Homo sapiens: one gene and its partners. The protein of the gene in region 2 purifies or fractionates together with the protein of the main gene of each other region. This does not show direct contact. Each region holds a gene or a part of one and is shown on either strand. Other genes may lie near its edges.

Evidence for each region.
Region 1: the proteins of KANSL3 (region 2) and NDRG1 purify together in Homo sapiens (co-immunoprecipitation; one large-scale study listed by IntAct). This does not show direct contact.
Region 3: the proteins of KANSL3 (region 2) and UBE2R2 purify together in Homo sapiens (co-immunoprecipitation; one large-scale study listed by IntAct). This does not show direct contact.

What each region holds. Positions count from the first base shown.
Region 1 is NC_000008.11:133,287,171-133,290,821, reverse strand, and holds part of NDRG1 (protein NDRG1), read left to right. Parts: intron 1-3,651. UniProt on the Homo sapiens protein: Stress-responsive protein involved in hormone responses, cell growth, and differentiation. Acts as a tumor suppressor in many cell types. Necessary but not sufficient for p53/TP53-mediated caspase activation and apoptosis.
Region 2 is NC_000002.12:96,631,813-96,635,463, reverse strand, and holds part of KANSL3 (KAT8 regulatory NSL complex subunit 3), read left to right. Parts: intron 1-3,651. UniProt on the Homo sapiens protein: Non-catalytic component of the NSL histone acetyltransferase complex, a multiprotein complex that mediates histone H4 acetylation at 'Lys-5'- and 'Lys-8' (H4K5ac and H4K8ac) at transcription start sites and promotes transcription initiation.
Region 3 is NC_000009.12:33,900,583-33,904,233, reverse strand, and holds part of UBE2R2 (ubiquitin-conjugating enzyme E2 R2), read right to left. Parts: intron 1-3,651. UniProt on the Homo sapiens protein: E2 ubiquitin-conjugating enzyme that accepts ubiquitin from an E1 ubiquitin-activating protein, and catalyzes its covalent attachment to other proteins by an E3 ubiquitin-protein ligase complex.

The DNA of each region.
Region 1 (3,651 bases), on a different chromosome or scaffold from region 2:
CCGTCTTAGGAAGGTACTATGGGGGAGCTGAAAACAGAGAACCTTCTGGGTGTTGTGAAGGGAGAAAAGTTCAAGATGCTGGTTTTGCCAAAAGCTCAAGCCTGCTCATGATGGCTCAGTGGTGACTGCAGGGTGGAGGAGAGGCATGTGACTGTCCCAGCTGACCTCCACACGCTGAAAGCCTCATGGTCACGTGCAGCCCACCTTACAACGTTGTATCTGGGCCACGGGTGGTGGTGAGGACTGTGGATATATTTAGGGCAATGTGAGATCATTGTCAACATTCCCTTTAAGGTTGCTTTAACCTTAAAGCAGCCAGCTTGATGCTTGCTGACTTGGGGCACACATCTTAACCTCTTGATGCCTCAGTTTCCCCGTCTGTTAAATGGTGACATGCTGGCACCTCCCTCCTAGGGTTTCTGTGAGGCTTAAAGGAAGTACCGGGTTTAGAGTCCAGTTAGTGCCACAGATACTGTTCCTGGTGCTGTTTTTGTGGTGTGTCTGTGTAGGGTTACATTGTTGCCTTCCTGTGGCTGCTCTTCCTGGTGGGCGGAACCTGGAACTTCTAGAACAGATCATGGATGTTTCTCTGCTGGATACCCCTTCAGCCTCACCCTGTGGGAGTTGTGGCGGGGCCCAGGAGAGTTTGCTCAAGAGGGTGTGCAGGTGGGTGGCAGAGCTGGAGCAAGGCACTAGTCTTAACAGACAGGAGTCTGAGGCTGGCAGAAGTGGGGGCCTTGGTCCAAGGTGCGGGGCTAATCTGGCCAGAGCTGAGCCTGGCAGGGCCTTGGTAAGACCCTGTGGCCCTTTTGTCTTGGTGAAGCACCTTCCTGCCTGGGTTTCCATTTGCCTGTAAGTTTGTTGTGGACAGCGTGATCTCCATAGACGTACACTGTGCCTACTTTACAGATGGAGAAACCAAGGCCCAGAGAGGAAGTGACTTGCTCAGAGTCATGGAATAGGAAAGTGGCAGGGTCCCCATGCCCTGATTCCTAGGCCAGCGTTCCTGCTGCCCCACTGAGGTTTTTGGGAATCACAGGCTCTGTGTGTCCCCCTCAGTCCCCCAGGGGCTGTTGAACAGTTCTCAAGTGGTGTCGGATTACTGAAGATGCCTCTGCCCACTGCCCTCCCAGGTCCCAGGGTCACGGGTCACGTTCTTTTCTTCCTCGGGCAGATCCTGGCCTTGGCTTTGCCTGGCACCTGTGATCCAGCTCTCCTCTGACTCTCCTGGGTCTGCTGGACTGGAAGGGTATTTGTGTAGCCCCTCTTGGGCCCTCATTACTCATTGACAGACAGTGCTGGTGGAGAGAAGGGCCCCAGTGGTGACGCACTGGGCCTGATAATCAGAAACCTTGGTGGCATTTGCTGAGCATTTTCCATGTGTCCCTCTCCTCGCTGGGACTCTAGGACTGAAACCCAGGCCACATCCTCACAGATGTCCTGGCATCTCCAAGGCAACCCTGAAAGGAAAGTATGTTGATGAATTAAGCAACTGTTTGCTTAATTCTCCATGCCATTCTTGAATTTAAGCCCCACTGCTGATCATTGGGAGCAGGAGTTAGCATGCCCATTGACAGACAAGCAAACTGAGGCAAAGAGGTTAGATAGCCAGGCATGGTGGCATATGCCTGTAATCTCAGCTACTCAGGAGGCCGGAGTAGGAGGATCACTTGAACCCAGGAGTTTGAGACCAGTCTGGGCAACATAGCAAGACCCTGTCTCTCTAAAAAACAAGATGAATAATACATTTTTAAAAAGAGATTCGATAAATTATGCAGGATCACAGAGCTAATAAATGGTGACACCATGGCCTGCAAGCCTTCCCCCAGCTCCTGGCTACCTTTCGCTTCTCTGGCATTGGTCTTCTCGGAATTCCTCCCAGGCAGGTGGATGGGAAAAGAAGTGAAGATACAGGCTGGCAGCTGGTGCTGTGACCTGGAGCCCTGTTTTTGGTGCTAAGCTGGGTTTTAGCTGAAGGAGACCTGCTGGAGGGGTTTCTTCTGTGCTTCTTGGGGAGCAAAGATGGCCTTGGAGATGGAGACACGGTTTGTCAGTCCCAAGCCACTCCAAAGGTGGGGCTGGTGGGCTAGGAGTCAGCCCTGGTTCCCCCGCCATGCTGTGTGTGGCCCTGCCTTGCCACCCCACCTGCTGGAGGACCTCTTTGATGCTTTCTAGTGGGTCCCAACATTCTGTGATTAGGACTTTGCATGAGGCAGAGGGAGGGCAGGAGCTGGAGTCCAGCAAGGACCTCAAGCCCAGGGACAGGCTCCACCTGCCACACTTGCTAAGCCGTGAGGGCCTCAGGTGCCCGGGAGGAGGGAGCAGGAGTGGAAGCACCAGCTCGAGCCGCCAAACCAGGTCACGTATCACCTGCCATTTCCTGCTGGCAGAAGGAGATCACAGACACCAGAAGACAGCAGCTTCTGCCAGAACTGGGTCCTTCCATGATTCTCAGGTGGTGACTTTGAATCCCAGAAAAAGTGTTTTGGGGAGAGTGGAGTGAAGGAAGAGTGTGAACATTGGATCTGACTCCACTCCAGCCCCTGTGCTGCAGCCAGCAGGGTGAGCTCAGGACAGCTGGCAGCCGCTTGGGCCCAGCCCCCTCCTCCGTGAATGAAGGTGGTGGGGAGTGCACGTGTGCGTGTGAGTGCGTGTGAGTATAAATGACTGTGGATGTGAGAGTCCATGAAAGTGAGAATGTATCAGTGTGTAAGAAAGTGTGAGTATGTGAGAATGAGTGTGTTTGTGAGAATGTATGTATGTGTGAGTATAAGTGTGTGAATGTGAGAATGTCTGAGTGTGAGAATGAAAGTTTGCAAGTGTGTCAGTGTGAGGGAATGTGTGAGTGCATTTGAGAGTGTGTGTGTGTGTGTGTGCGTGTGTGCACGCATGCACTAGATTAAATAAGAATGCATCCAACTGACATTTTCTGGATACTGTTACCTACTAGGAATTACTAAAATCAGCTATTCCAGAGGAGGGTGGATGTCGCACCAGGGGACATTTGGCAACGTTTGCAGATTCTTTTGCTGGTCGCAGCGTGGGGTGTATGCTGTGGGCATGTGGTGGGCAGAGGCCAGGGATGCTGCTGAGCCTCCTCCCGTGCTCAGGGCAGCCCCTAAGGCAGAGGCTGCTTGTGGGGCCCAAATGTCAGCAGTGCTGAGCTGAGGATCTCTGTCCAGGAGGCACAGACGCTGTCCTGGATGCTGTCCAGACAGCATCTGCTCTGCCCTCCAGGGGGACAGACAGACAGTGGACACAGCCCAGATGCAGCCTGATGAGTGAGCCCAAGGGAGTGCCTGTCCCCTCGGGACTGTGAGCTCCGTGGGGGCAGGAACTGGGTCTGTTTGCTCATGATCCCCAGATGAGTCCCATAGCCAGTCTCATCACCATAGCTGGTGTTATTTTTGTTCTGAGCTCTGTGTTGGGCACATAGAACCTAGTGGGTAGAAACCTCTGAATAAATCCTGAGTTTTCCATCCTGCTTCCGTGAACTCAGATGTTCTTTGAGGGCCAGCCTGGTGGCGTGGGGGCTGGGAGTGGGCAGATTGTAGGGAGCCAAGTCCTGGGGTGGAGTGGGGTTCAGGCCCCTTTCCCTGGCTTGAGCCGAAGCACCTTGGCTTTTTAAATTTTAAAATTTTTATTTTTTAA
Region 2 (3,651 bases):
TCTCATGACATTTTCTTAAAGTGAGATTCTGTGGACTTGGTTCTTTTGGTACTTAGAAAATTGTTTCCTTTTATAATCTCTGTCTCCAAATATAGACCCTGAAAGTGAGAATTTGGCATGCTGTAAGAACTCTTTTAGGCCAGTGTGGCCAGAATATAATAGCAGTAGGGGTATAAGTGGGAGGTAGGGAGAAGTTGGCAAGGGTTACCTCGTGAAGGAATTTGATTCTAAGAGTGGTAAGAAGTCACTGAAGGATCTTAAACTAGAGATTCAATTTATACTTTAAAAAGATCATTTTGGATTTTTTGTTGAGTATATTATAGTGCAGGAGTAGAACTTACAAGACCAGCTGCAGGCTGCCACTGCAATGGACTGAGATGGGCCAGAAATCGTGATATCTTGTATAGGGCAGGAACAGTACAAATGGAGAAATATAGATGACTTTGAGATGTATTTCATAGGTAGAGTGAATAGGTTAATAGGATCTGCTATGGTGAATTGGAAGGAAGAGCAAGAACCAGGGTTAAAGGGAAAGGTAAAATTAGGATGACAGATTTCTGGCTTGAGCAGTTGGGTGGTGCCATGAGTTAGGGAAGACTGGAGGAGGATAGGTTTGTGATGGTGAAATCAAGAGTTCTCTTTTAGCTACACATATCCAAGTACTAGCTCAATGTCTGGCCTGGAGAAGATAATCAGCTCTTTTGCCCACCACCAAATCTAGCTGCACATGATTTCATTTCATTTCATAATGATGTAATTATTTCAGTCATTGGAAATGGATGCAGTAAGGTCACTGAAGTCAAAAAGTTAACATAAAGTTTGGCAGGTAGCCACTAGACCAGTTTGTTTGGCATAGTATTTGGGGTGACAAAGTTGGTGCAATGTATCATAAAGTGGGGAAGGACCCTTGGGGCACTAGGATTTGTTTCTTACTTTCTTTTTTTTTTTTTTTGAGACGGAGTCTCTGTTGCCCAGGCTGGAGCGCAATGGCGCAATCTTGGCTCACTGCAACCTCTGCCTCCTGGGTTCAAGCAATTCTCCTGCCTCAGCCTCCCAAGTAGCTGGGATTATAGGCACCCGCCACCATGCCTGGCTAATATTTTTAGTAGAGACGGAGTTTCACCATGTTGGTCAGGCTCGTCTTGAACTCATGACTTTAAGCAATCCACCTGCCTCGGCCTCCCAAAGTGCTGGGATTACAGGCGTGAGCCACTATGCCCAGCTAGATCTCATTTTAAAATATGAAAGACCTTTAGATGTTCATTTATATTTGTTTCTGTTCTAGGCTCTGTACAAAATGAGCTAAGTAGCTAAGGTATGTGCATTCCAGGTCATCTGTCTTAGATAATCATACAGAAAGGAAATCATAGACTTTACAGTATATATTAAATAACTACCAGTTGACTTGCTAATGAAAGGGAAAGTTTGTATGAATTTAAAACTCTAGACCAGCACTGTTTAACAGAACTCTCTGTAATAATAGGAATGTTCTATACCTGGGATGTCCAGTGTGGTAACTGCCGCCACGTGTATCTGTTGAATGCTTGAAATGTGGCTAACGTCACTACGGAACTGAATTTTTTATTTTTTTATTTTTTTGAGACGGAGTCTTGCTCTGTCACCCAGGCTGGAGTGCAGTGGTGCAATCTTGGCTCATGGTAACCTCCGCCTCCCGGATTCAAGCAATTCTCCTGCTGCAGTCTCCCAAGTAGCTGGGACTATAGGTGCACGCTGCCACACCCAGCTAATTTTTTGTGTTTAGTAGAGACGAGGTTTCACCATGTTGCCCAGGCTGGTTGCAAACTCCTGAGCTCAGGCAATCCGCATGCCTCTGCCTCCCAGAGTGCTGGGATTACCGGCATGAGCCACCATGTCCGGCCTTTTTTTTTTTTTTTGAGACAGAGTCTCGCTCTGTTGCCCAGGCTGGGGTGCAGTGGTGTGATCTCGGCTCACTGCAACCTCCGTCTCCCGGGTTCACGCCATTCTCCTGCCTCAGCCTCCTGAGTAGCTGGGACTACAGGCACGTGCCACCACACCCTAATTTTTGTTTTTTTTAAGTAGAGATGGGGTTTTACCATGTTGGCCAAGCTGGTCTCGAACTCGTGACCTAAGGTGATCCACCCGCCTTGGCCTCCCAAAATGTTGGGTTTACAGGCGCGAGCCACTACGCCCAGCCTGAATATTTAATTCTATTTAAATTTTTTTTTTTTGGGCCGAGGTCTCTGTCACCCAGACTGAAGTACAGTGGTGCAATTTTGGCTCACTGCAACGTCCGCCTCCCAGGCTCAGTTGATCTCCCACCTCAGCCTCCCATGTAGCTGGGACCACAAGCTAATTTCTGTATTTTCAGTAGAGACGGGGTTTCACCATGTTGCCCACACTGTTGAACTTGTGGGCTCAAGTGTTCTGCCCACCTTGGCCTCCCAAAGTGCTGGGATTACAAGCCTGAGCCCTTGTGAGCCCTTGTGCCCAGTAATTTTTTTTTTTTTTTTTTTTTTGAGATGGAGTCTCGCTCTGTCTCCCAGTCTGGAGTGCAGTGGCGCAATCTCGGCTCACTGCAAGCTCCGCCTCCTGGGTTCACACCGTTCTCCTTCCTCAGTGTCCTGAGTAGCTGGGACTACAGATGCCTGCTACCATGGCTGGCTAAATTTTTGTATTTTTAGTAGAGACGGGGTTTCTCCATGTTAGCCAGGATAGTCTCGATCTGACCTCGTGATCCACCTGCCTCAATTTAAGTAGTCGTGTGTGGCTTATACCTACTGTATTGAACAGTATCTAGGCAATCAACTTGTTAGCCACTTTTCTCCATTTGTACTGTTCTTGTCCCTAAACGAGCTCTCATGATTTCTGGCCCATCTCAGTCAACTGCAGTGGCTGCCTAGCTGGTCTTCTAAATTCCACTCCTGAGCTGTAGCCTACTAAACAAAAATTGAAAGTGATCTTTTAAAAATATTAGCTTGAGCCAAATCAACTTGCTTATGGAATATATTGTCCTTTTTTTTGAGACTGGGTCTTGCCGTGTCACCCAGACTGGAGTGCAGTGGCATGATCAGAGCTGACTGTAGCCTCAACCTCCTGGGCTCAAGCAAGCCATCCTCCCACTTCAGTTTCTGGGACTGCAGGCGCATACCACCATGCCTGGCTAATTTTTGTGTTTGTTTTAGAGACGGGGTTTTGCCATATTGCCAAACTGGTCTTGAACTTCTGGGCTTAAACAATCCTCCTTCAGCCTTCCAAAGTACTGGGATTACAAGTATGAATCACTGTGCCTGGCTATATTTGTCATTTATTTATTTATTTTTTGAGACCAGCTCACTCCTGGGCTTAAGTGATCCTCCTGCTTCAGCCTCCCAAGTGCTGGGATTACAGGTGTGAATCACTGTGTCTGGCTGTATTTGTCATTTATTTATTTATTTTTGAGACCAGGTCTTGCTCTGTCACCCAGGCTGGAGTGCAGTGATGCAATCATGGCTCACTGCAGCCTTGACTTCCCGGGTTCCAGCAGTCCTCCCACCTTAGCCTCCTTAGTAGCTGGGATCACAGGTGTGTGCCACATGCCCAGCTAATTTTTGTATTTTTGGTAGAGACAGGGTTTCCTCATGTTGCCCAGGCTGGTCTTGAACTCCTGAGTTCAAGCAATCCACCTGCCTC
Region 3 (3,651 bases), on a different chromosome or scaffold from region 2:
ATTTCAGTGCCATAAATGACCTGTTAGAAAATATAACAGTTTACTACTTTAAAACCTCCCTTGTCTCACAACCAAGTGAACACAGAAACAAAAGGGATAAGCGAAAGTATTCCACATCTGCTCATTAGGTAGTGCTTTCCTGACTTCCGCTCAGAGTTCTGAGCACCACCAGGTATTCCAGACAGGTGAGGTTCCAAAAAGTGTACAAAACATCCCACAGCCCCCGAAAACACCAATAAGATCAAAATGTTGAAGGACTACCCAATGATTACATAGAACTAAGTGATAAAAAGTCTAAGAAGGTAAACAATTTCCAACCCAAATACCTTGTAGAGCTGTGTGAAGATGTTAGGTGTAACTCCACATAACTAGTTGTAGTTGGGAAGCTTCTAAACAAAGCAGCATAAAAGCAGGGAAAACAATCTTGATTTGAGTATGGGGAATGTCCCTAAATTGTGGCTCAGGTGGCCTGGGGACTCAAGTGTGAGGAAACAAAATGATGCTAGTACCCAAAGTAACAAAGGCAGTTTCAGATGGGCAGATAAGTATAAAAGGAATCCTCTGCCTCCAAAAGACTGGATTACATGAGAAGTAGGCCTATTTTAAAAGAAAAAATGTTCATAATACTTTAAGCTGAGATAAGGCAAATGACATCATTTGCGTGTAAATGCAAGAGAAGTAAAGGATAAAAAGCCTGAATTCCCATGGGTGGTGGCAATACATTATCCAGCCAAGCAGCATAAAAATGCAATGAGGAAAATCTTGTTTGGGGCTTTGTATTTGAGGAAAGGGGAAGCTTATTTTCTCAAATAGGGAGAGGGTGTAAGCATTTGATTCAACGTTCAACCAGCAAAACCAAGAATCACCAGTATTATAGCTACCACTTCCTCTAATCTAGGGTTATTACTCGTCCTGAAAATCCATGCACCAGAATCATTATTAAAGTACAACTGGGGATTTTTTTGGATGCAATTTTTTCAACAAATCATCCAAAATATTTTTTAAAAACTTTTATACACATTGTCTAATTATAATGTCAAAATAATGTGCTACAATTACTTCTGAAGACGTAGCACCCTCAAACATACTCTTGAGTAATATAGAATACATAAAACTCAGACTTTTTTTTTTTTTGAGACAGCGTTTCACTCTTGTTGCCCAGGCTGGAGTGCAGTGGCACGATCCTGGCTCACCGCAACCTCCGCCTCCCAGGTTCAAGCAATTCTCCTGCCTCAGCCTCCCGAGTAGCTGGGATTACAGGCAGGTGCCACCATGCCCAGCTAATTTTGTATTTTTAGTAGAGACAGGGTTTCTTCATGTTGGTCAGGCTAGTCTTGAACTCCCGACCTCAGGTGATCTGCCCACCTTGGCCTCCCAAAGTGCTGGGATTACAGGCGTGAGCCACTGCGCCCGGCCTACAACTCAGAATTTTTAATACTAATTTAAAATTGAGTCTATCGAGATAATTCATGTATACATAATTTGCTACGTAGGACACTTTTCCCCTCAAAAAAAGAAAGCGTATTCTCAATTACAGAATATCTCAAAAACAGCTCAAAACAATTATTTTAGTTCTTTTCATGTATTTAGAACCCAAGATAAATTATGTACTACTTGAACTGGTTACGATACAGGCATCTAGCAATTATGTCTCCCTGTAGCAAAATGAAATAAATATGAGGAACTAAGAAATGTGTTTCTCTTCTAATAGATAGCAAATGACTGCTTCACATTAGACCCAAAAAATTCCTTGAAAATAATAGCTGCAACCCAAGCCAGCCAGGTAATATCCACCATTCTAGTAGGTTTACATGCATTATTCACTTAAATTCTATCAACAACCTACTGAGGTAGGTATTATTCTTGTATAGATAAGAGATTCAGAAGGCGGGTGTAGTGTGAGCACCTGTAATCCCAACACTTTGGGAGGCTGAGGCAGGGGCATCACTTGAGCCCATGGGTTTCAGACCAGCCTGGGCAACATGGTGAGACCCCATCTTTACAAAAAACTTAAAAATTAGTCCAGGTGCTTTGGGGCACACCTATAATCTGAGCATTCTGGGAGGCCAAGTGGATTGCTTGAGCCCAGTAGTTTGAGACTGGCCTGGGAAACAAAGCAAAACCCCATCTCTCTACAAAAAAAATACAAAATCTTGAGCAGACACCGTGATGCATGCCTGTGGTCCCAGCTACCCAAGAGACTAAAGTGGAAGGATTGCTCAAGCCCGGGAGGTTGAGGCTGTGCTGAGCCGTGACCGCGCCGCTTCATTCCAGCCTGGGCGACAGAGCAAGATCCTGTCTTAAAAAAAAAAAAAAAAAAAGAAATATGAGAAAAAAACATTCAGAGGGATGATGGTTGTCAAGGTGAGGTGTAAAAACACATTTATTTGAATTTAGAAAGAAAGTAACATTTTTTGTCTTAAAAAATATATTGGTAAGATATGCTGAAATCTTTAATATATCTATTTTCTCAACTCTTTCTAAATAAATTGGATGGAACAAGGTACCCAAAGGAATGAGTAACAAACATAATCAACAGTCATTTGACACATCTTGAAGAGCTTCTATTACAAGTCAGGAAGCTTCCAATTCTTCACTTTTGATAAACCTGGAGATTCTAATCAAGTTATTAGTTTTTGTATCAGTAAAAATGTTTAACAAATGATTGAATAAACAAATAAAGGGGAAGAATAGATCAATCCATGCAGAAGAATTCAAAATAATTTATATAGATACCCTGGCTTCAAGGAGGTATAGCCACCCTCTCCTTAGTTGTGGGCTATGCATATTCCTTCCAAGGAGTACAGAATGAAAAGTTCAGGAAAGAGCAACTTTACAGTGGAGAAAAGCTAAAAATATTATTTCAGGCAGGTGATGAAAGGTATCCCATCAACAGGGATAAGCCACACTGATAGTAAATACTTCAGATATGACATAATGAAAATGGCACATTACTTCTCTGGTCTTTCTCTCCCAAACCTATAACCCTAGACTAATCATGAGAAAACACATAAGAAAAATCTCAACTGGGGGACATTGCACAAAATACCTGATCAGTACCCCCCAAAATTGTCATCAAAAACAAGAAAATTTATAATCAAGAGTTGCTTAATAGCTAGGTATGGTGGCATACACCTATAGTCACAGCTACTTGGGAGGCTGAGGTGAAAGGCTCACTTGAGCCCAGGAGGTCGAGGCTGCAGTGACCTGTGATCACACCGCTGCACACCAGTCTGGGTGACGGGAAGACACTGTCTCAAAGACAAGAGACAGAGACACAGACAGAAACAGAGAGAGAGAGAGAGACAGAGACAGAGAGAGAGAGGAGTTGCCCATGAAGACATGACTATTAAATATAATGTGATGAGCAGGGCACAGTGGCTCATGCCTATAATCCCAGCGCTTTGGGAGGCCAAGTGGGGAGGACTGCTTGAGGCCAGGAGTTTGAGACCAGCTGGGCAACTTAGTGAGACCCCATCTCTACAAAAAATTTAAATACATATATGTATACACGTACATATATAGATATATATTTATATGTATGAAATATTTTGGAGCAAAACAACGACAGGTAAAAACAAAGGAAATGTGAAAGCGTATGGACTTCAGTTACTTATAATGAATTAACATTGTTTATTAACTGCAACCAAT